Homo sapiens: one gene and its partners. The protein of the gene in region 3 purifies or fractionates together with the protein of the main gene of each other region. This does not show direct contact. Each region holds a gene or a part of one and is shown on either strand. Other genes may lie near its edges. The genes, in order: PEDS1, TBC1D31, MYH11, C4BPA, INF2, SVIL and ACTR3.

Evidence for each region.
Region 1: the proteins of MYH11 (region 3) and PEDS1 purify together in Homo sapiens (affinity purification with mass spectrometry, with the first as the bait; one large-scale study listed by BioGRID). This does not show direct contact.
Region 2: the proteins of MYH11 (region 3) and TBC1D31 purify together in Homo sapiens (affinity purification with mass spectrometry, with the first as the bait; one large-scale study listed by BioGRID). This does not show direct contact.
Region 4: the proteins of MYH11 (region 3) and C4BPA purify together in Homo sapiens (affinity purification with mass spectrometry; one large-scale study listed by BioGRID and IntAct). This does not show direct contact.
Region 5: the proteins of MYH11 (region 3) and INF2 purify together in Homo sapiens (affinity purification with mass spectrometry; one large-scale study listed by BioGRID and IntAct). This does not show direct contact.
Region 6: the proteins of MYH11 (region 3) and SVIL purify together in Homo sapiens (affinity purification with mass spectrometry; one large-scale study listed by BioGRID and IntAct). This does not show direct contact.
Region 7: the proteins of MYH11 (region 3) and ACTR3 purify together in Homo sapiens (affinity purification with mass spectrometry; one large-scale study listed by BioGRID and IntAct). This does not show direct contact.

Annotation. Positions count from the first base shown.
Region 1 is NC_000020.11:50,136,724-50,140,223, forward strand, and holds part of PEDS1 (plasmanylethanolamine desaturase 1), read right to left. Parts: intron 1-3,500. UniProt on the Homo sapiens protein: Plasmanylethanolamine desaturase involved in plasmalogen biogenesis in the endoplasmic reticulum membrane.
Region 2 is NC_000008.11:123,128,207-123,131,706, forward strand, and holds part of TBC1D31 (TBC1 domain family member 31), read left to right. Parts: intron 1-39; coding exon of another isoform or gene 40-74; coding exon 75-307; intron 308-859; coding exon 860-1,012; intron 1,013-1,991; coding exon 1,992-2,127; intron 2,128-3,500. UniProt on the Homo sapiens protein: Molecular adapter which is involved in cilium biogenesis. Part of a functional complex including OFD1 a centriolar protein involved in cilium assembly.
Region 3 is NC_000016.10:15,847,029-15,850,528, forward strand, and holds part of MYH11 (myosin-11), read right to left. Parts: intron 1-3,500. UniProt on the Homo sapiens protein: Muscle contraction.
Region 4 is NC_000001.11:207,142,233-207,145,472, reverse strand, and holds the end of C4BPA (C4b-binding protein alpha chain precursor), read right to left. Parts: intron 1,656-3,240; coding exon 1,480-1,655; intron 930-1,479; coding exon 756-929; 3' UTR 501-755; downstream 1-500. UniProt on the Homo sapiens protein: Controls the classical pathway of complement activation. It binds as a cofactor to C3b/C4b inactivator (C3bINA), which then hydrolyzes the complement fragment C4b.
Region 5 is NC_000014.9:104,699,618-104,703,117, reverse strand, and holds part of INF2 (inverted formin-2), read right to left. Parts: intron 1,762-3,500; 5' UTR 1,753-1,761; coding exon 1,362-1,752; intron 14-1,361; coding exon 1-13.
Region 6 is NC_000010.11:29,624,972-29,628,471, forward strand, and holds part of SVIL (supervillin), read right to left. Parts: intron 1-3,500.
Region 7 is NC_000002.12:113,956,089-113,959,588, reverse strand, and holds part of ACTR3 (actin-related protein 3), read right to left. Parts: intron 2,230-3,500; coding exon 2,134-2,229; 3' UTR 1-2,133. UniProt on the Homo sapiens protein: ATP-binding component of the Arp2/3 complex, a multiprotein complex that mediates actin polymerization upon stimulation by nucleation-promoting factor (NPF).

The DNA of each region.
Region 1 (3,500 bases), on a different chromosome or scaffold from region 3:
AAAAAAAAAAAAAAAAAAAAGAGGGGAGGAAGGCTGGGCGCATTGGCTCACGCCTATAATCCCAGCACTTTGGGAGGCCACGGTGGGAGGATTGCTTGAGTCCTGGAGTTCAGTACCAGCCTGGGCAACACAGCGAAACCCTGTCTGTATATAAAATAACAAAATTCGCCAGGTGTGGTGGCATGTGCCTGTGGTCCTACTGGAGGCTGAAGTGGGAGGACTGCTTGAGCCTGGGAGGTTGAGGCTCCAGTGAGTCGTGATCGAGTCACTGCACTCCAGCCTGGGTGACAGAGGAAGACTTCATCTCAAAAAAAAAGGCGGGGTGGGGGGAGCAGAGTAACTTTTGTTTGTTGTTTTTTTGAGACAGACTCTCCCACTGTGGCCCAGACTGGAGTGTGGCGGTGCCATTCACAGCTCACTACAGCCTTGAGCTCCCATGCTCAAGCGACCCTCCCACCTCAGACTCGTGAGGAGCTGGGACTACAGCTGTAGAGACAAGGGTCTCACCATGTTGTCCAGGCTGACCAGTGAACTCCTGAGCTCAAGCGACCCACTCACAAATCCTAAAGTGCCTCCCAAAGTGCTGGGATGACAGGCGTGAGCCACCGCACCCAGCCGAGGGTAACTTAACTGTGGAGAACTCTGACATCTGCTACCTTAGTCATGGGATCAGAGTCATCACAGTGATAAGTCATGTTGACAGTCTGTACTTTTGCTATGATGTGATGAAAATGGCACTTCACCTCTGAACTCTTCCTCCTCATAACCCGTAACCCCAGTCTAATCATGAGAAAAACATCAGATAGATACCAACAGAGGGGCAGCCTACAACACACCTGACTAGCACTCCTCAAAACCGTCAAGGTCAGCCAGGCGCGGTGGCTCACTCCTATAATCCCAGCACTTTAGAAGGCCGAGGAGGGTGGATCACAAGGTCCGGAGATTGAGACCATCCTGGCCAACATGGTGAAATTCCATCTCTACTAAAAACGCAAAAATTAGCCGGGCGTGCTGGCGCGCGCTTGTAGTCCCAGCTACTCGGGAGGCTGAGGCAGAAGAATCGCTTGAACCTGGGAGGCGGAGGTTGCAGTGGGCCGAGATTGCGCCACTGCACTCCAGCCTGGCAAGAGTGAGACTCCGTCTCAAAAAACAAACAAACAAAAAAAACTGGACAAGAGGAGCCTAAAGGGACATGACAACTAAAGGCCATGTGATACCCTGGATGGGATCCAGGAACAGAAGAAGGACATTAGGGAAGAACTAAGGCAATCTGAATAAGCCATGGACTCCAGCTCATGATAATGTATCAACACTGGCACACACTGTAACAAATGTGCCCCGCTAATGTAAGATTTAGGATGTGAATAATGGAGGAAACTGCGTGCCCCAGGCATATGGGGACTCTCTGTACTATCTGCCCCATCCTTCTGTAAGTTGAAAACTTGTTCTAAAAAATAAAGTCTGTTTTTCAAAAAGTGGACAATCTCACTTCATGTCCACAGTAACAGGCCCCACCCCATCCTGACCTTCCAGAGGAGGGTAAGAACTCCCCAAGGTCACACGGTGGCAGGGGCAAGGCAGGGCTGCTGGTGAGTAGCCAGAGACTCGCTAGAGTCATTCAGGATGATGCAACCTTAGGGTTAGGGTTAGGGAGACTTCGCACCCAGGTATGGAGAATGGGGACATTTACCTCCCTTAACTATGAGAAGTTAATAAAATGGGCTGCTGGGTAAAGGGCCCGGTGGGTCCCACGACACAGCAAGCATCCCCCCAACGCAGCTCCTGTGAGCTCTCTGCTGAGCCTCAGTCTTGCCATCTGTCCAATGGTCAAGGCCTGGCGCCTGCACGCTGCCCAGCAGGGAGGGATGTCTGCTTTGGACAGAAGTCAGGAATCATCTTAGGAGACCAGGAGCCCTCCCCCTGGCTCCGTGATCTTGCGGCCTCTGCCGGTGGCAGTGACTCCAGGCTGCTGTCTGAGGCTGCTTTAATGGGGGCAGGGGTGGCAGACAGGCACACAGAAGCCTCTTTGTCCCAGCTTTGGGGTGGTGGCAGCTGGCAGCCGGCTCCCCCTGGGGGCAGCTTCGGCTTGGTTACCACCCTTCCCCGCAGAACACTGGGACAAGGAGAGGGATGGGAGACGGCTCACCCCAGGCTACCCTGACTCACGGGGGAACTTGAGGTAGTCGCTGGGCCCGTGCGGGCTTCCATTTCCCCAGAGGTCACCCAGCTGGGACTTCCTCACCCCTCCCTGCCCACCTCAAAGGCCTGGCGTGGAGATGGAAGGCGTGGCTGAGGAGCCAAGTGAATGCACTGAGGGCAAATCCATGGGTTTCGGTCCTGGGTCCCAGTCCTGTCTCTACCGCCTTCCAGCTCAGTCAGATCCAGACTCCACTTCCAGCCACAGGACGGGCCACGACCCGAGCCTGGGACTTCTCTGACCTCATCCCTGACCTCTGGACTCACTGTGCCCTCTGCCCGGAAGGCTTCTCCCAAGGTCCACGAAGGACTCTGCTCCTTTAAGGGCCAACTCACAACCCAAACACTTCCTCCCCCTTCTCCACGTGGAACAAAAGCTCAGGGCTCCTACGGCCTTCACTTGTTCACCCACTCACTCACGACAACGATGTGCGTGTCACAGTGGCTGATGACCTCCACGTGGCTAAATCCAAAGGTCCCTTTACTGGCCACCTTGCTGGTCCACTCGGTGGCTGTTCCCAGTCGACCCCCAAGACTCCTGGAAACACATTCTCCTCTTGGCCCCTGCAAGCCCTCCCTGGTTCTCCCCCGACCTCCCTGGTTCTCCCCCCATCTCCCTGGCAGCGCCATCCCAGCCTCCCTTGCTGGCTCTTCCTCCTCCCCAGCCTGGAAACACGGGAGACTCAGCCCCTGGGGGTGCTCAGCCAGCCTAGGAGATAAGGAGCTTCATCTTGACACAGATGACCCCCGGATTTCTTTCTTTTTTTTTTTTTTTTTCCAGAGGAAGTCTCACTCTGTCGCCCAGGCTAGAGTGCAATGGGGCGATCTTGGCTCACTGCAACCTCTGCCTCCCGTGTTCAATCAATTTCTCCTGTCTCAGCCTCCCCAGTAGCTGGGATTATAGGCGCCTACCACCATGCCCAGCTGATTTTTGTATTTTTAGTGGAGACAGGGTTTCACCGTCCCAAAGTGCTGGGATTACAGGTGTGAACCACCATGCCCGGCCGGACCCCCAGATTGCTATTTCCAGCTGCCTCTCCCTGCCTCCAGACCTAGATTTCCAGTTTCCTGCTCAACACCTCTCCTTAGCTCAACAGCGGCCATCTCAAGCATCTCCCTCAGGCCTGCTCTGCCGATGACCTCTCTCCATCTCTGTGAATGACAGCTTCATCCCTTCCATCTCTCAAGAGAGAAACCTTGGAGTCAAGCTAATTCTCTCTCACCTCCACAGCCAACCTGGAAGCACATTCTGGCAGCTCACCTTTCACAGCTCCTCCAGAATTTGACAACGCATCACCACCTCC
Region 2 (3,500 bases), on a different chromosome or scaffold from region 3:
AATTCTTGTTTTAATTCTACCTCATAATTGCTTTGTCAGGTAAATCTCGATTTAAACACCAAGTTTTCTTACAGTTTTTTTTTCACCATCGGAATAACCTGGATATAAATGTTGTGATTAGACAAGTTTATCATCTCATGGAGACCACGCCTACTGACATTCATCCAGACAGCATGCTTAATGTTTTTGTTGCACTGACAAAAGGGCAGTATCCAGTATTTAATCAATATCCAAAGTTTATTGTGGACTATCAAACACAGGAACGAGAAAGAATAAGGAATGATGAATTGGATTACTTAAGAGAGAGGTAATTATGGAATAGTTTTTCTTTTTCTGATACAATGAAATATGTTATAAACATAAGAAAGTTTTAATGAAAAATACATTTGGCTGAGCGCGGTGGCTCACGCCTATAGTCCCAGCACTTTGGGAGGCCAAGGCAGGTAGATCACAAGGTCAGGAGTTCGAGACCAGCCTGGCCAACATGGTGAAACCCCGTCTCTACTAAAGATACAAAAAATTAGCCAGGCATGGTGGCACGCCCCTGTAGTCCCAGCTACTCAGGAAGCTGAGGCAGGAGAATCACTTGAACCCAGGAGGAGGAGGTTGCAGTGAGCGGAGATCATGCCATTGCACTCCAGCCTGGGCGACAGAGTGAGACTTCATCTCAAAAAAAAAAAAATGCATTTAAATTATGAGTATTTGTGTAAAATCAGAGTTTGAAGGCTAGAAATATTAAAGATAGTTAATTCTTGCATATGGAAATAAAATAGATTATACATTAATCGGTATACATTTTGTGTTTTGATGATTCTTAGCTTTCTTCTTTGTGTTTTCATAATAATATTACCTACTTAAGGCAGACAGTTGAAGATATGCAAGCTAAAGTCGACCAGCAAAGAGTTGAAGATGAAGCTTGGTACCAGAAACAGGAGCTGCTTCGTAAAGCTGAAGAAACAAGAAGAGAAATGCTCTTACAAGAGGAGGAGAAAATGATACAACAAAGACAGAGGTATGTGTTATCACTTTAAAAAAAAATCTGGACATATAAGTTAGTTGAATAATTTTTATGTTCTTTCATTTTTTCATTTTAGAAACAACATTATATATAGGATTACCCAGCTGTAGCATTTCTATAAAGCAACTATTAAGTTAATAAAAAGAATCTTTATATACCACTTTTCAAAAAAAATTGCTATGTAGTAAAATGTAATTCTGAAGCTATGCTGAATATAATATAGCTTTGCATGGATTAATGTTCCTTGAAGGACATTATTTAGAAACATTATTCTATAGTGGGCAGAAATGCTTTGTAATAGAATGCTAGGTACATCACCTTTAGTAGAGTATAATTTTTTTAATTGTGTTTTAAACATACCTGTGTGACCTGACAGTTGTAACATAGAATGATTATGTCATTACCCATTTAACACTTTGGAGGACAGGGGAATGAGTATTAAATGCGTATTCAAAAGTACGTTAGCTGGGTGTGGTGCCACATACCTATAGTCCCAGCTACTAGGTAGGATCACTTGAGCCCAGGAGGTCAAGGCCAGCCTGGGCAACATAGTGAGACCCTGTCTCTTAAAAAATAAAAAGAAAAAACTTAAAAATAAATACATAAAAGTATGTTAATAAGGTAAAATGTGTAAATTAAGTAAAGTAATGGGATAAACATTGAGACTAAGCCCAATAGTTGGGAAACTCACTTCTGTGTTTATTGATTCCTATTCTTAGATGGAACTTTATGTAACAGATTTATAGTGTGGGTTAAAAGGAATTACTGAACTGAGCCAGTGAGCTTTCTACTAAAATTCTTAAAGCATAAGTATACATCATCTTTGGTAACGGTGGAGCAGTTCTCGCATTCTTCTTTCAAATAAAGGATATCAATTGTATTGAAATGATCAGCATGGCAGACCTGTTATGAAAAAACTAAATCATATTAGGAATTGCTGTATTTGTTCCACTTGATGTATTTTGTATTTAAGGCTAGCTGCTGTGAAAAGAGAGCTGAAAGTAAAGGAAATGCACTTACAAGATGCTGCAAGAAGGCGTTTTCTGAAGCTTCAGCAAGATCAACAGGAAATGGAACTAAGAAGACTGGATGATGAAATTGGGAGAAAGGTTTATTATTCTTAACTTAGTTCTCATACATCATCTCCATTTACTCTCACTTAAATGTAATGAACACCTTCAAATTAAATAATATTCTTAGAGTCCACCATGAATACTAAATAGCCGCTTTAATTTTATTTACTTTTCCCCTCAGCTTTCTCATTCTCTTTTGTATTTCATGAATGGCTAAATATTTAAGAAATGCCAGGAAAATTAGTCAAGTGTCCTTGGTGACTATTTCTCTAAAACTAGAAATATCAGTATCAGTTAGCCATTAAGTTATTTTTTCTTTTCTTTTCTTTTTTTTTTTTTTTTGAGACAGAGTCTTGCTCTGTTGCCCAGGCTGGAGTGCAGTGGCGTGACCTCAGCTCAGTGCAACCTCCGCCTCCCGGGTTCAAGTGATTCTCCTGCCTCAGCCTCCCAAGTAGCTGGGATTACAGGTGCACGCCACCACACCCAGCTAATTTTTGTATTTTTCTTAGAGACGGGATTTCATCATGTTGGCTAGGCTGATCTCAAACTCGTGACCTCAGGTGATCTGCCCACCTTGGCCTCCCAAAGTGCTGGGGTTACAGGCGTGAGCCACCAAGCCCGGCAGTTAATTTTTAATTAGGGGACATATTCTTTTTTCATATAAAAATTATCTGTGGCCAGTATAAAAATAATTTCCAGTACAAAACATACAGAATTAAAAATTGACCTTCTCCATTAGTTCTCATGTCATCCCCAGAGAAACACTATTAAAAAATGGTTAATTGGCTGGGTGCGGTGGCTCATGCCCGTAATCCCAGCACTTTGGGAGGCCGAGGCAGGCAGATCACCTGAGGTCAGGAGTTCGGAACCAGCCTGGCCAACATGGTGAAACCCTGTCTCTACTAAAAATACAAGAATTAGCTGGGCATGGTGGCAGGCGCTTGTAATCCCAGCTACGCAGGAGGCTGAGGCAGGAGAATTGCTTGACCCTGGGAGGTGGATGCTGCAGTGAGCCGAGATCATGCCACTGCACTCCAGCCTGAGCGACAGAGTGAGACTCAGTCTCAAAAAAAAAAAAAAAAAAAAAAAGGTTAATTACATAGACTTTCAGGTATGTTCTATAGATAGAGGAGTAATTATAGTCATGTTTTCCTATATTTATACAAAAATGGGATTATTCTCATTATACATTGTTTTTGTAACCTGCTTTTTAAAATTTCATATGCTGAATATCTTTTCATATTTGTTATATGTGTATCTATTTCTCTTTTTGTGGTTGTATAATATTCCATTGAATTAATAGCTTATTTAATCCTTTGCTATTGGACATTTCGGTTATTTGCAGTGTTTTGCAAATTACAAAACCATGCTACATTGTAAAAGTCTTTGAGTACTTGCACACATACTTT
Region 3 (3,500 bases):
AAGTACACTTCATTTTCCTTCCCTCTTATCTTTAATTGTGGTAAAATACAGCTAACATTCACCACCTCGGCCACTTAAACACAGTTCAGTAGCATTAAGTATATTGATATTCTTGTGCAATAATGAAGAGTTTGTGCAGATGGTAGCCAATTACATCCCAAGAGGGCTAGGAGAGTGTTTCATTTGTTCTAAGCACTATGACAAGTAAAGTGGACTTCTTTTTTTTTTTTTTTTTTTTCTGAGACAGGGTCTTGCTCTGTCGCCCAGGCTGGAGTGCAGTGGCATGACCTCAGCTCACGGCAACCTCCGCCTCCCAGGCTCAAGTGATCCTCCCACCCCAGCCTCCCAAATAGTTGGGACCACAGGCACCTGCCACCATGCCCAGCTATTTTCCTGTATTCTTTGTAGAGACGGGGTTTCACCATGTTGTCCAGGCTGAGGTCTTGAACTCCTGACCTCAAGTGATCTGCCTGCCTCGGTCTCCCAAAGTGCTGGGATTACAGGCATGAGCCGCTGTGCCCAGCCCTAAGTGGGCTCTTCCTAATTGCCATGTGGATGAGTTGCCTTAAAAGTCAGAAAAAATAGCAAAAGCTACAACAGAAAAATAAAAGGACACGCACGCCTCCATTGCCTGGGACCCTGTCTAACCTCAGACTTAAAAACACAAACAAGATCAAGTGCAAAGATTCAGTCTCTGTACAAAAAAGGAGAGCTTGGAGCAGGCTGGATTCCCTCTGGCTTTGATGTCTCTGACAGTTACGACGTGCAAAATCTGCTTTGGTCAAAAGACAGCAAGATGGGGGATGAGAAGCTTCGACTCATGCTAGAATGGTGTTTTCCATAGCATGCCCCTTGGAACCCTAATTCCCTGAAATATCTGGGCTGGGGTGGAGCTGCGGAGGTTGAGAAGCTCTTCAAACAGTGGCGCAGTCAAGGTCAAATCCATCTGGAAGGTGCTACATATTCCCCTTTCCCTCATTGAGACACAAAACACACAACAGGACACTTGAGTCTCTGGCAGATCCGGAAACCTGAAAGCTGTTTTGCTCCTACGAGCCTTGGGTCCCCAAAACAACATTTAGCCACAGATTTGCCAAATGTTTTGAGAATGTTTTCCTAAAAATTTGCCAAATTTTTGAGAAAATTCAGTGAGCCTGACAAATTAATAATACTAATACTAGTAATAATAGTTGCTAAGTCTTTTTTTTTTTTTTTTTTTTTTGACACAGAGTCTCGCTCTGTTACCCAGGCTGGAGTGCAGTGACGCAATCTCAGCTCACTGCAACCTCCACGTTTCTGGGTTCAAGTGATTCTCGTGCCTCAGCCTCCCAAGTAGCTGGGACTACAGGCATGCGCTACCATGCCTGGCTAATTTTTGTATTTTTAGTAGAGATGAGGTTTCACCATATTGGCCAGGCTGGTCTTGAACTCCAGGCCTCAAGCAATCCTCCCACCTTGGCCCCCCAAAGTGCTGGGATTACAGGCGTGAGCCACCGCAGCTGGCCACAAACTCTGCACTGTGACTCTTGGGCTGCGTCATTCTGTGTCGTGAGGGGAGCTCTTCCGTGCATTGTGGGATGTTCCGCAGCATCCCTGGTCTCTGCCCACCTGATGCCAGTAGCACCCCTTCCTCCACTCATGACAATCAAAAATGTCTCCAGACACTGCTAGATGTCCCCTGGGGTGGCAAAACTGCTTCCAGTTGAGAACCACAGCTTTAGAATAAAAACAAGGGCTGTCTTGGGAAAGGCAGTTAAAGCTGAGAGCAGCTCTCACTTAGTCAAACTCAACTCGGAATACCAACTGCAGAAGATCAGACGGGGGCAAGGTGAACACACTGGACCAGAGACGGACCGCCAGTTGGCCCAACCCCAGGGACACTCTTCATCTACCTTGATGCACCTTCCCAACCCTCCCTCCTCCACCATCGCTCATGTTTAAGGTCCTGCATCAGCTCCAAGGGCTGAAAGGACATCTCTGAAATTACTACCCAGAACTGCTGACCACGAAGTACAGTTCACTCATCAAGAGCTGCTCTCAATGTTTTTGGTTGGGGGAAGGGTCTCACTATATGCCCAGGGTGGAGTGCAGTGGTGCAATCATAGCTTACTGCAGGCTCAAACTCATGGGCTCAAGGGATCCTCCCACCTCAGGTGTGGGCCACTATGCCCGGCTTATTTTTTGTAGAGATGGGGGTCTTGCTATTTTGCCTAGGCTGGTCTCAAACTCCTGATCTCAAATGATCCTCCTGCCTTGGCTTCCCAAAGCTCTAGGATGACAGGCGTGAGTCACCTCGTCCAACTTTCTCGAATGTTTGGATGAAAACAAATGACTCTGTCACCTTTGGCATTAGCGATGTTTGACACATCTGAGTGTGTCAGCCTTGTTTACAGTCCTGTCCTGACCAACAACTGCTTCATTCTTTTTTTTTGAGACAGGGTCTGGCTCTGTTGCCCAGGCTAGAGTGAAGTGGCGCGATCTCTGCTTTCTGCAAACTCTGCCTCCCAGGCTCAAGCCATTCTCCCACCTCAGCCTCCCAAGTAGCTGGGATCACAGGCACGCACCAGAACACCCAGCTAATTTTTTAATTCTTGCATTTTTTTGTAGAGACAGGGGTCTCACTTTGTGGCCCAGGCTGGTCTCAAACTCCTGAGCTCAAGCGATCTGCCTGCCTCAGCCTCCCAAAGTGCTAGGATTACAAGCATGAGCCACCGCGCCCAGGCTGCTTCATTTTTTGAGCACAAACAAGCTAATCATTAGCCTCTGGAAGACCTTAGGATGTCAAGTAACGAGTCTCAGCTTTGCCCCAAACCTGCTGGGTGACTCTGGACAAGTCACTTGCCCTCTCTGGGCCTTGTATTTTTCATTTAGGGAAAATAAATCAATGGTAGGCTGGCCCAGCTCTACCATTTTATGGGACCCGTCTGTGACTCCCAGTCAAAGGGCTGAAACTGGACCAACTGAGAATGTCAGGTTGCTTTAGTTTGTTTTACCATCAGTTTCATTTTTCCCAGAAGAACTCAGGGGCAAAAGATCTTGCCCTCTCTGCTTCAGCATTAATAAAAAGTAAATTAGGCCGGGCATGGTGGCTGATGCCTGTAATCCCAGTACTTCGGGAGGCCGAGGCAGGCGGATAACCTGAGGTCAGTAGTTCAAGACCAGCCTGGCCAACATGGTGAAACCCCGTCTCTACTAAAAATACAAAAAATAGCCAGGTGTGGTGGTGGGCGCCTGTAATACCAGCTACTCAGGAGGCTGAGGAAGGAGAATCGCTTGAACCCAGGAGGTGGAGGGTGCAGTGAGCTGAGATCCCATCACTGCACTCCAGCCTGGGCGACAAGAGCAAAACTCTGTCTTGAAAATAAATAAATAAATAGTAAATTAAATATCCCAGAGCCCAGAGAGTATAGGATTTGCACATCACCTCACCTGGTCAACAGCTTCCCTCAGGATTTTACTGCCAAGCCATTGGCTAAAGATTTTGGACCAGAGACAAAAAC
Region 4 (3,240 bases), on a different chromosome or scaffold from region 3:
GAGGACATGAGTGCTGTGCACACATGAAACTGTGGAGTAAAGGCAGTCTGTCCACGATAAGAACCCAAGTATGGCCAGGCATGGTGGCTCACACCGGTAATCCCAGCACTTTGGGAGGCCAAGGTGGGCAGATCACTTGAGGTCAGGAGTTCGAGACCAACCTGGCCAAAGTGGTGAAACCCCGTCTCTACTAAAAATACAAAAATTAGCTGGGCATGATGGCACACACCTGTAATCCCAGCTACTCAGGAGGCTAAGGCAGGAGAATTGTGTGAACCTGGGAGGTGGAGGTTGCAGTGAGCCAAGATTGTGCCACTGCAGTCCAACCTGGGCAACGGAGTGAGAGTCTGTCTCAAAAAAAAAAAAAAAAAAAAGAAAACCCAAGTACCTATTATTTGTGGCCCAAACAGTAAAACAAATGTATTAATGTATTAACTTTATATTATGGGTTTTTTAAGGACGCTTATTTCACAGAGTCCTAAATGACCACAAAGACAAAATAGTTTTTTATACATACATTTTTAATCGAAAAAAAATTTGTGCTTTGTGTGTTGAAAAGCAAAAACATGAGCCACACAGAGGATGATTAATAATTTCACAATCTCAAAGCACTAAACTTTAGCAAATTATCATTTCTAGATATTTATTATGATGAATATCACTGCCAAATTGACAGTAGATTTGCTAAACTGATCTGTATTGAATTGCAAGAGGCAAGCCAGCAAGACACCTTTTCCTCCTTCTTTTGAGAAAAATTATAGTTCTTTATCCAAAGTGGATTGTCTTGCGCTGTCTCTCTGTAGTTCCAGTTGTTCAATTTCCAGAGACAGCTTATATACCTCCAGGGCCATTTTCACATCCTCTGGGTTTGGGAGACACTGCATGAGTCTTTTGCCTGTGAGCACTTGTTCACAGCCTTCGGGGGTCTCCTAAAAGATATAAGTGGTGGGTGTGATTGAGAAGCTTCTCTTCTAATCATAAAGGAGGGTGGATCCTGACAGTGGAAGGACTACAGGATTGAACCAAGACCAACCTCAGACTGGTGGTTGAGGCTGGGAAAACAAGAAATCACTTGGGTCCCACCACAGTCTTCCCCAGGGGAACATGGATCTGTTCTGAGACAGCTGTCCAGAAGGCCCCCATGGTAACAGAGGCTGTTTTTGCTGACCATCCAGAAATGGAACAACAATATATTATATAGCTTAGCAAAAGTTAGGCTAGAAATCAGTACTACTGGGTCTATGAAACCCTGCTCTGTAAGGGCTCAGTTTTTCCTGTTCTCAAGTGAGAACAGGAGAACTTGCCACCCCTAACTTACCAGAATGCTTCAAGACAAAAAGAGTTTCTTTGAGTGGGAGTGGCTCAGAAATGAATCCTGACAAGTCAGATTTCACCATTGTTGAGTGGTACAGAGCTCTGGGGGATGCCACCATTTTTAGGGGTCGACAGCACAGAACTTCCTTGAATTGTGCCACTTACCCACTCACACTTGGGCACCTCTGGGTACCAGGTTCTGTTCCCAGAGCAAGTGATACTTTGGGGACCAACCACACCATAGCCAGAATCACATTGGATGGTGACATTTTCAGGCTCAACATACTGATCCTTATCCACAGACAACCTTCCATTCACTAATTCTGGTTTCCGACACAGAGCTGTAATGGAAACATATTTTTAAGAAATCTGTAAATCTATGAAGAAGGACATGATAACAGTCTCGGATAATAAGAATGAACTGTATTTAGTTCTGCTAATTGTTCTATCTTTCTCTTCATTTGAAAACATTCATATTAGCATTTTATTGAGTATGACTACCTATCAGACTTCTGCTAGGCACTTTATGTTGCTATCATTTAAGTCTCCTGGCAGCCCTATGAAATGAGCACTGTTATTATTCCCATTTTATCTAAGAGACAGCTGAGATACATTAAGACACTTGCTCAAAGTAATAACATTTTCATATAATATGACAACATATTTCTTTTTTTATTATACTTTAAGTTCTGGGATACATGTGCAGAATCTACAGGTTTGTTACATAGGTATGCATGTGCCATGGTGGTTTACTGCACCCATCAACCCATCATCTACATTAGGTATTTCTCCTAATGCTATCCCTCCCCTTGCCCCCCACCCCCTGACAGGCCCCAGTGTGTGATGTTCCCCTCCCTGTGTCCATGTGTTCTCATTTTTCAGCTCCCACCTATGAGTGAGAACATGTGGTGTTTGGTTTTCTGTTCCTGCATTAGTTTGCTGAGAATAATGGTTTCCAGCTTCATCCATGTCCCTGAAAAGGACATGAACTCATTCTTTTTTATGGCTGCACAGTATTCCATGGTGTATATGTGCCACATTTTCTTTATCCAGTCTATCATTGATGGGCATTTGGGTTGGTCTCAAGTCTTTGCTACTGTGAATAGTGCTGCAATAAACATACATGTGCATGTGTCTTTATAGTAGAATGATTTATAATCCTTTGCATATATACCCAGTAATGGGATTGCTGGGTCAAATCGTATTTTAGTTCTAGATCCTTGAGGAATCGCCACACTGTCTTCCACAATGGTTGAACTAATTTACACTCCCACCAACAGTGTAAAAGTGTTCCTATTTCTCCACATCCTCTCCAGCATGTTGTTTCCATGACAGGATATTTCTAAAAGAAGGTATGTGACCCCAGAATCCCAACTAACGAGGTAACTGTCACTCACAGTTTTGATTGCTGCAAGATTCTAAGTATAAAAATTTCCTTCTTGCAGACATTTATGCAGCCAACAGACCTATGAAAAAATACTCATCATCACTGGTCATTAGAGAAATGCAAATCAAAACCACAATGAGATAACATCTCACACCAGTTAGGATGGTGATCATTAAAAAGTCAGGAAACAACAGATGCTGGAGAGGTTGTGGAAAAATAGGAATGCTTTTACACTGTTGGTGGAGTGTAAATTAGTTCAACCATTGTGGAAAACAGTGTGGCAATTTCTCAAGGATCTAGAACTAGAATTACCATTTGACCCAGCAATCCCATTACTGGGCATATACCCAAAGGATTATAAATCATTCTATGATAAAGACACATGCACACGTATGTTTATTGCAGCACTATTCACAATAGCAAAGACTTGGAACCAACCCAAATGTCCATCAATGATAGACTGGATTAAGAAACTGTGGCACATATACACCATGGAATACTATGCAGCCACAAAAAAGAATGAGTTCATGTCCTTTGCA
Region 5 (3,500 bases), on a different chromosome or scaffold from region 3:
GATGTGTCCAGGGCTGCCAGGGTGGAGTGGGCAGGCTCAGCAGGGCCAATGCACCCCTTCCCATGCCTGTGCAGCTGGGCTCAGGGCTGGGGCTCTGGGCCTGGCAGGCAGACGCCAGGGGGTGCCGGGCACTTGTCTGTGGCCCACAGCAGTGGGCTGGGACCCAACGAGGTGCCCCACTCCTCGGTGTCCTGGCCCTGCTCCTGGACCACAGGGCCAGACCCTGCAGGGAAGGGCTTGGAGGCAGCTGCCCCATCCTGTCACTGGCTCTGGGCCCAGCTTTTCTCCCAATGCAGCACTTACTGTGTTTATGGCAGACACAACCTCATTCCTATGAACCCCTGCCTCCCACCCCATCTGGAGCTGTGAAAGTTCTGGGGGTGTCTCTCATCTGACCCTGCTGAGAACAATTCACAAAAGACTCCATAGAGGGGCCCTGCCAGGCCCAGGCTGGGGAGACGGGCTGAGAATGGCTGGCCCCTACACCTGCCTCTGTCCCCTGGGTCCGACAGAAACGAGGCGCCTCTGGCTTGCTTGCCTGCACAGGTAACTGCCGCCCCCATGGGCCCAGCCCCGCCCATCACTGCCCACCCTAGCTCGTCCCCAAGCATCGGTAGGACCTGGCAGCAGCCATGGAGTGGCACAGCAAGGGTTTCTCTCAAGGGACCGGGACTAACTTTGGGCACAGCCTGGGGAGACTTCCTGGAGGACAGGAAAGTGAGCTGGGGCTTAAAGGCTTAGCGGCGCAGGACCTTGGAGGACGCAAAGGCAGAAAACACGAGCAGAGGCAGAGACCAAGGGCCTGCCTGCCTGCCGGGAACGAGTCCCCTGGGTGCTGGAGTAGGGGACAGGGCGGGGAGGGAGGCGCTAGGGAAGGCGCTGGGAGGTGGAGGGTGACACCATCAGTAGGTGTGGGCCAGACCTCAAGGGCTCTGTCTGGGCTGAGGCTGAAGGGCTTGGAGCTAGGCAGGTGTATGTAGGGAGCCACTCGGGTGGATTCGCATCTCTGACTCAGTGACTCCTGCCGCCGAGGTGTGGACGAGGGCAGAGAGCCCAGAGGGTGGGAGCCAGCACAGGACGGGGAGGAAGGGTGGGGCAGAGCCACACAACAGAGAGGGGCACAGGGGGACCGCTGGTGCAGCAGTGCGGGGACTGGGGTGACCTGGAAGCCTCAGACTCGGAGTGAATGTGGATGTTTTTCCTGAGCCCAGGAAGCCAGTCCTCCTCCAGGAAGCCCTCCTTGCCTGCCTGGCTGCGCTTCCTCCTGGTGGTTCCCCAGGCCTCCCGGGGCCTTTTGGGCCTGAAGCCTCATACCAGGTCCCCAGCGTCCGCCTGGGCGGCCCTCCCACACTGCGGCTCACCCTGGGAGAGCTGGCGCACGTAGCCCTGGTTGCTGAGGATGTACTCGATGCCCTGCCGCGAGTTCATGACGGCGCGCACGCAGCTGACGCAGGTGAGCTGCAGCAGGGCGTCGGAGATACGTGCAACGCCGCGGCCCGACAGCCGCGCCAGCGCCTCCAGCAGCAGGTCCAGGCCGCTCTGCTCCAGGAACTGCACCATCCAGCCGCCGTCGCTGCCCTCCAGGCGCTTGCGCAGGCCGGAGTAGTTGACCACAGAGGGCATCTGGAGCAGCCGGATGCACAGCTCGGGGTCCGCGCTCTCCAGGTTGGCCTCCGTGGGGTCCGAATCCTGTGGCCCCAGCTTCTCCTTCAGCGCTGCCCACTTGCGCTGTGCGCCCTCCTTCACCGACATCTTGCCGAGCTGCAGGCAGAGGGCAGGGAGCCGTCAGCGGGGAGGGGATGGGGGCTGTCCTCCTGGCCACCAGCGCAGGCGGGGCCACTTCCCTCGGTCTCAGTTTCTCTGCTGCAATTCCTGCTCACGTGCCATGCTGAGGGTTAGGGGTAGCACTGTGTCCCCCACTATATCTTAGGCTTCCCTGTACCCATCCCTGACCGAATTTCAGCAACCGAGGCGGCAGGCAGGAAGGGCCCTACTGCGCGCATGAGGACCCCGAGGCTCAGGGCTGGGAGGGGAGGAGCCGGCTCAGAAACCTGCAGCACGAGGCCAGCACGGCCCCTGCAGAGTGACGGGACCGGATGAGCTTGGGGAGGACTCGGGGGAGCGGGAGGCTCCCCTGGCTGGAACATTACCCACGGTAATGATGCGACAAAACGGCGCATCTGAGGCTGCCTTATCTCACCCCAGGGCACTTCCCCCGCCCCAGTGGACAATATGGACAGGGAGATTCCAAACCTCAGGCATGCCTGGGGTGCCCACAGCGTCAGCAGCGTGGCTGGGGAGGAGGGGCGACTCCCAGGTCTCCCCTGGGCCTCAGTCTGCCCGTCTGCATGTGGGTAGGGGGCCCACACCAACAGGAAGACGGAAACCCTTGGCACTCAGGGTTTTACCAGGATTCAGTCGCAACAGGTCTGACTCCAGCCCTGGGAACACCCGGGTAGGTAACAGGCCCAGCCCAGAAGAGCCCCAACACGTGCCTTTCCCCAAAACAGAACAGCAGGACAGGCGGGTTGCACCTCTGACATCAGCTCCACGCCACCACATCCCCCCAGCCGCTGTCCCCAACCACAGACCCTGGGAACTGGCCTCGAAGGTCAGGGGCATCCCAGGCCCTCCTGCAACCATGTATGGCTTAGATCTTATATTTAGCGTCTGAGAACAGCAGCGTGGAGCCTCGGGGAGGGAGCTAGGGGGCCGGGCCTGGCAGGGACACGCTCTGAGCCTCCACCCCGGCCCAGCACTCTCCACCCTGGCCCTCGGCTTCCCACCACCTCCAAGGCAGGCACTTTATACCTCCCACAACAGGTGGGGAACTGGAGGCGGCTGGGTCCTAGAGAAGCTGGGTCTGTGCCCACAGTCCCACACCTGGGCACGGCTGGGCTGTGACTGGAGGTCCCACATGGCTTTGCTTCAAGTGCTGCCCAACCCGGTAAGTCAGGGGACCCCAGGCTGAAGGGCATTTGAGGTCACGGGAGCTGAGCGGGGTCGAGCACCCAAGCGCCTGCCTCCCCAGGAGGCTCTATTCCTCCCCTCCTGCCTTGGGAGAGTGTCCTGGAGCACCTGCCCTTGAGGTCTCAGGCCCACTCCCCAGCCTGGTCCACGACCAAGCCTGGTGTTTCCGGCAGTCCAGCCCCTACTCCCCGCACCGCCCCTCAGCCCTCCACCTGTCCAACTGCCCCAGGGGGCCAGTGGGCTCCTTCCAGGAGGCAGCCTGACAGGTGTAAGCCAGGGTTCTGATCTGCATGTCCCCAGCCCGGGCCCTCACCAGCAGACCTTGGCCCAGTCACTCATCCTGCCTGGGCCTCAGTTTCTTCTTCTGCACCTCCAGCACCAGGCTGCCAGGAGCATCCTGAGAGGCTGTCCTTGGGATGCCCCTCCTCCCTGCAGGGGGTCCTGGTCTGGGCACTGTAGAACGGAGAGCCCGGAGCCCCCGGTGCACTGTGGTTTTAAGCCACCCTCCCAGGCCCGGCCCTCTTGGTCAC
Region 6 (3,500 bases), on a different chromosome or scaffold from region 3:
AAAATAGTACTAACATAAAGGTAGGCAGAAGGCAGATCTAGCTTATATACAATCAGCTTCACCCAGTGATAGAAGTGACCAGGTGAATCGTCTTAAAAAGAAAAAAAAAACACACAGAAAGATTACAGACTCCAAAGTTTCAGTTGTAAGTTACATTCTCTGACATGATTAGTGACACACAATAGTTCATCCAATGTTACTAAACTCCTTCTAAAATCATCTCAAAGTCTTCAGTTAAGACTACCTTTCTTTTTAACTTTTGCTAAGTTTAATAAAGTTCTGAGACAAAGTCTGAAAGTAAGAAAGAAGTAAAGTGGATCCAATGATTTATTTCTGTAACATCCTGCTTGATATCAACATCAACCTTTGCCTTGGTAATGAAATCAACGTTTTATAGACCGAATGTTATGATAGCAGAGAAAGCATGAATTTTAAAAATAGAGAGAGATGGGTACTTGACTTGTACTTGCCTCAAGTATACATATATATATATTTTTTTTCCTTTTTTTTGAGACGGAGTCTCACTCTGTTGCCCAGGCTGGAGTGCAGCGGCGCGATCTCTGCTCACTGCAAGCTCTGCCTCCTGGGTTCACGCCATTCTCCTGCCTCAGCCTCCCGAGTAGCTGGGACTACAGGTGCCCACCACCATGCCCGATAATTTTTTGTATTTTTAGTAGAGACGAGGTTTCACCATGTTATCCAGGATGGTCTCGATCTCCTGATCTCGTGATCCACCCGCCTTGGCCTCCCAAAGTGCTGGGACTACAGGCATGAGCCACCACGCCCAGCCTCAAACATATATTTTGAAATGCGTATAAGCTTTATCAGTATGAATTCTAGGGGAAGAGAGAATTTCAGAAGATACAAAATGCAAACTGTAGGAGGATACAAAGCCTTACAAGTGTCTCCTTTGGTTAGGAACCATGCCGGGTTTTTTGGGGTCTTTTTTCAGCTTTGAGGTATAATTCACAAATGCAAATTGTATATACTCAAGGTGTGCAGCATGATGTTTTGATATAAAAGCTGAACTCACAGAAACAAAATGGAAAGGTGGTAACCAGGGGCTGGAGGTAGGAGAAATTGGAAAGACATTGGTCAAAGGATGCAAACTTGTAGTTACGAGTAAGTTCTGGAAACCTAAGGTATAGCATGGTGACTATAGTTGCTAACAATGTATTATATATTTAAAATTTGCCAAGAAGTAGATCTTAAGTTTTCTCAAGGCACACACACACGGTTATGGCCCCTACATCAGACACACATAACTATGTGAAACCATGGTAGGTATTTTACATTTTGTTATTAACCTAAGCACTTGAACAACAGATGTAGGGCTGAAGATCAAGAGAATCGCTCAGGGTACTTTAGTACCATTCCATTGGAACTTAAACGCTACGAGGGCAGGAATTTTGTTTCCCACCGCTCTTTCCCCAACACCTATACCAGTCCCTGACACACAGTAAGTGCTCAGAAAACAACTGTTGAGAATAAATGAATACCTGGCAGTGAACTAATAAACTCAAAGGGAAACGAAAGCCAAGCACATCCCATCTTGTTGTGAACACGAAGATTCTGACGGTCTCAGGCATCCCTGAGCGAGTCTGCTGTGACCACTTTGGGGTTTCACATCAGGAGAAAAAACAAATGTCCAAAAGAAGATAAAAATAAATTAGGTTAGAGAAAAGAAAATAGACATACTTAAATGAACACAAAAGAAACTATGAGAGCTTAATTTAAAGAGGTGTCAGAAACTTTCCAAAATAAAGAATCAGGCTGGGCGCGGTGGCTCAGGCCTGTAATCCTAGCACGTTGGGAAGCGGAGGCGGGTGGATCACGAGGTCAGGAGATCAAGACCATCCTGGCTAATACGGTGAAACCCCGTCTCTACTAAAAATACAAAAAGTTAGCTGGGCGTGGTGGCGGGCGCCTGTAGTTCCAGCTAGTCAGGAGGCTGAGGCAGGAGAATGGTGTGAACCCGGGAGGCGGAGCTTGCAGTGAGCCGAGATTGCGCCACTGAGCTCCAGCCTGGGAGACTGAGCGAGACTCCATCTCAAAAAAATAAAATGAAAATAAAATAAAATAAAATAAAATAAATAATAAGAATCAAAGACAAAGAATGATTATGAAGCCATCAGAGAAGGGAGAAACAGTCTGTGTATTTCAACAGAAACAAGCAAGGACAGTGAGAGGACTTTTTAAAAAAGATCTTCTTTCTCAACACATTTCTAATTTGTTCCTGCTCTCCCACCTTGAACTACTACCTTCCAGATACAAGGTGTTGCCTTTCCAAGGAAGACAGATTATTCTCGATCTCTGAAACCTTTGGATTACAGAATCCCAATACGTAAAAGGGGTCTTAAAAATCCTCTAGTCCAACCCTTGTTTGAATGAATGAGGCCACTGAGGCTCAGAGAGGTTAAGAATTTACCCAAGGTCACACAGCTGGTTATTCATGAAAATCAATGTTCCTCCTTCTTTCTCTGGCCATTGACACCTTCAATTTCCAGATAAAATCTTCCTCCTGCACCGAGAGCAGGGAAAACACTTCTTTGGACTTTTGGGGAGGTAGGTGAATGAATGAAGGAAACAAAGCATGTTGGCTGTTATGGCCCCTACATCACTTTGCTCTGCTGTGTTCTCCACGCCACGTGCCCACTGCAACTTCCTTTTGAAATATTTAAGAATAGTTGGCTGCCTGAAAGCTCTCTGATGCCTCTGGAGTGAAGACCTGATACAAATCCAAATTAATAAATTCCATCTCAAATGGGAGAATCCTGTGTTGGGTAAAGTACATCCCATGAAGCTGAGTCACCCTATTCTGAAGCACAATGACCAATTTTATCTAATCACAGAATTTTAAAATATTCAGCACTTCCAATAAAAAATGTATGAAATCATAAATCCAAATGGTTATGTGTGTGTGGCTAAAATGAACATCCGGGGGAAATTAAGACTATCAGCACAATTTAGAGAGCTAGCTGCTTCTTAACGGTACAGCCAAGCCTTTTTTTCTAACCTGGCTCAAACCTATAGAGTTATTAGCTGGTTTAGATGTCTGATGCAATATTTGCAAACAAATTGAATTAATTGCAAAATAAACAAATGTAGCTGAATTTTGCAACCAACATAGCACACAGTAAACTAAACTATCAGCTTAACTCAAACAAAAAATTCCTAAGAAAATTTATATCCAAAACCACTAAAACATTCAGATGTCATTTTCACTTTCATAACCTACCTCTTAATTCAACATATTTTAAGCTACTGAAAATCAAGTGCTTTCCCATTTGGGTTTTGGCTGGAGCGGTTTGTTTGTTTTGGAGTAACAGGTGTGCAACTGCAACATGTATATGTCTTAAATTTTTGGCTGAGATAAATTAGATATAATGTTTCAGAATGTATGAAAGAGTATTTACTTAAAATTTTGAAATATTTAAAGTATGTGAGATCTTAAAAACCTAAAAATATCAATATGGTTTTTCTATTCAATGACTGTATCT
Region 7 (3,500 bases), on a different chromosome or scaffold from region 3:
GAAGGGCTGGAGTTTTGTTTCCCCAAATAAGTTAAGCGTAAGCTTCAAGAAAGTTTTTGATCTTCATGTTTTTGTAGCAAACAGTTAAGAACATCTCTGTATAAATATGCCTGAGATTGTCATCAAATAGCTTTATAAACATGTCTTTCTAGCTTATTCACTTAACTACCCAACCATCGCCGGTGGAAAAGACATATTTATGACAATGCTAACAATATTTTATTGGGCCAGGAGCATGACATCTTTACTGCTTATCAATATAGTTCTTTATCAAAAGATCTTTAATAAAAGCAAAGTGCAGAACAGTATATACAGTAAGTTCCTATTTGTGTAAAATAAGAAAGCTACATTTATTTCTACCTACACAGAAAATTACAATACAAGGACATCTAAGACATTCCAAGTAGTCTGTGTAATGATGGAAAAATGAGACAGGCTAGGGAAAAAAACTTACTTTTGCTAATCTACTCTTTGGTACTGTTTGAATAGTATTTTTATAATGTTTGTGAATTACTTTTCCAAGTAAAAAAAGGAGACCTTTGATACTGATGATGATACTACTGTAGGATATAGTTTGTCTTTTACAATCCCATACTCAAAGAATGAAGATTCACAAAAATTATTATAGGATTTTAAATATTCAGATCCACTCTAAACAAAAACTGAAGTTTACTCCCCAATTCTATCTTTAGAGTAAAAACAAAAAACTAAACACTTTATATTCTTTCACTTTTGAATAGACGTATTCCAATCCTAACGTGTTATTTTCATGAATAATGGAGTTCAAGTGTTCACTGATACTGCTAGTAAAAAGCCTATAAAACATTTCCCATTTTCTCTTTCTATAAATAACTGGTAAAATTTTAAGGTCACAAGAAATTTTCTACCATACACATTACAGAGATTTCAATAACTCCCAAATCTCAACAGAAACAGATATCACATACATAAAAACAAAATAGAATTACATTACTTAAAAAAAAAAAACATTAGAAAAGGTAATTCAGTTTTAATTTATTTTCATCACTTTTTCTTCATAATCCAGATATTTTAAAATGCAAAGAAAATTAACTTTCAATGATATGTTCAGGGACTGGCACTAAAAAAAATTTTCAGACTGCAAATGAGTTATACAAATGAAAATATCAAATGGAGATCCAGTTATCAAAATGAAAGCACTCAACATATTAAAAGTTCACAAGTATTTGTATTGAGCACATTACAAAAGTCAGCTTGCTAACTGTTGTGATTTTAAAGAACTATTGCAGAAGTCTGAAGAAAATAGATTTATTAGTTAACTTATAAAGAGATTAAAGAGGCTGAAACAAGTATTAAAAAGAAATTTGTGCCTTTATTAGAATGTTAGGCTTTAAATATGCCAATTTTGATAAATTATTGTTGTTGTTTTGTTTTTTATAAGAAATGACACTACAGAACTGCAATACTGGTCCAACACTCTTGTCTTTACTCTTCTTTTAAAGCAAGAAACAGAATGCGAGTAATCAGAAAGCACTAGCAGGCATCAGTTAATCCAAGATACTAGCTCTTAGTTCCAAAAGCACTTGCAAAGAAAACCTTTTGGGGGGAAGGGGTGGAGAGGGATGGAAGCACTCCATAATAACTGGAATCCCACGAGTGTGTATGCCAAGTCTCATGAGGCTATTTTTTGAATTTATCCTTTACTTGGTCATGGTTTTTTCCCTCAAATACAATTTTTCTTTGACTTTTTTTCCTCAAAGTATAAAAAGTATGAAATATAAACAAGCTCTTGCACTGCACACTTAGAAGTGTACAATTCAAGCATTATAGAGCTATCTACACACTGATAAATCCCATCGAATCTTGGATAATTCATTAATATACAAAATATCAGGGCACAGAAAGAACTAAAACCCACTTCTTTTTGTTACACATAAGATTCAAATATTCAATCTAAAGAAAAACACAATCACTTTCGCTCTCTTCTACATCTGCATGGTGATACACTTATTAAAATATTCCTGTATAATCATGTTTGGTGTTACTATTTCAAGTCAGGTTTAAAACCTCAAAACCAGCCATCCAGACAAAACAGGTAATCAGAAAGATTATCTCTTCCCCACCTCCCTAACCCCAATAACTATGAAGCCAATTTTACGACATGACTCCAAACACTGGATTGTGACGACAAATGCTAGGTCCAATTTCTTCATAATCCTTTTTGGTGTGGCATACTTGGTAGAACTCAGGCTGAAAACAAAAAATATGTATTTTTATAAGGGTCAAAAATCTACCATCTTGAAGGTATATTGAAATAAACTTTAAGAGTGATGCTTTAAAATAGATGTTAAGTCTAAAATGTTTATTATTAGTCCATTCATGGCATGAAAGCTTAGAAATTCTAGCAGCCATGACTTAAAATCAGCTATAAATCTTTATCGGAACTCCAAAAGAGCAATTAACTCCTGTCCCCAATCCTTGTCTCACACACCTGCTGCGAGGATTCTGAAATTTTGAAAAATGGAAGGTTCTCAAATGTCCAGTCTGTTCTGTTGAGACTTTCCCATACTTTCATTGCACCAATAATGTAAAGAAGCGGCATTCGCCTAACTACAGATAAAACTACTCCTAGTCATGCTATGACTATTTTTCGTCTAGTTCTAAGAAATGTCTAGATCATTTGCCTTCCTCATTCAAGGTCTGGAAAAGATAGACTGTTCCATGCTGTGTTACCTCATTTCTCAAGGCAAAGTCACAAACTCAACTAGGTTATATGGCCCAATTGAAGAAGACTAAAATTGAGGAAAAAAATAACTTTCACCTCTTATGTTGGAAATGGTTTTAAATCCAAAGTTGTACAGTTATTCAATAATTCAGATAAAAGCTCCTTCATTTTAATATTGCATGCACTACCAGAACAAAGCACCAATACTTCCTAGGTTAATGGTATTAGAACACTAGAACACCTTTTTAGGGGGCTTTAAAGACATTTTAATTTGGGGACAGGATTCTTAGAATAATTCCCTTTATTCAGTGTAAAACATCATACTTTCTATGCAATGAAGCTTAACTTTTACCTTAATGTTTTTAAATACTTAAACAGAACAAACAAGGACCTTCTGATGACTAAATTACCAGTTTTAACAGAACTTTCCCTACAGATAAACTTTAAAACATAGTATAAAATGGTCACTCTAAAATAATGTCTAGCAAGCTAAAAAAAAAAAAAAAATTAAATTCAAATGACTTCCAATTAAATTTAAATTACTTCCAATTTTTAAAATACTACAAACACATATATACAAAGTTTCCTATTATTTTGAGATACAATTTAAAGGAATTTGCTTTGTTCTTCTCCAAGTATTGATGGACTCTTCTATCTTAAATATATATATATAAATTTAAACATAAGCTTCAGCCAGGCGCAGCAGCTCACACCTGTAAACTCAGCGCTCTTTGGGAGGCTGAGGTGGAAGGATCACTTGAGCCCAAGAGTTTGAGACCAGCCTGGCCCAACATAG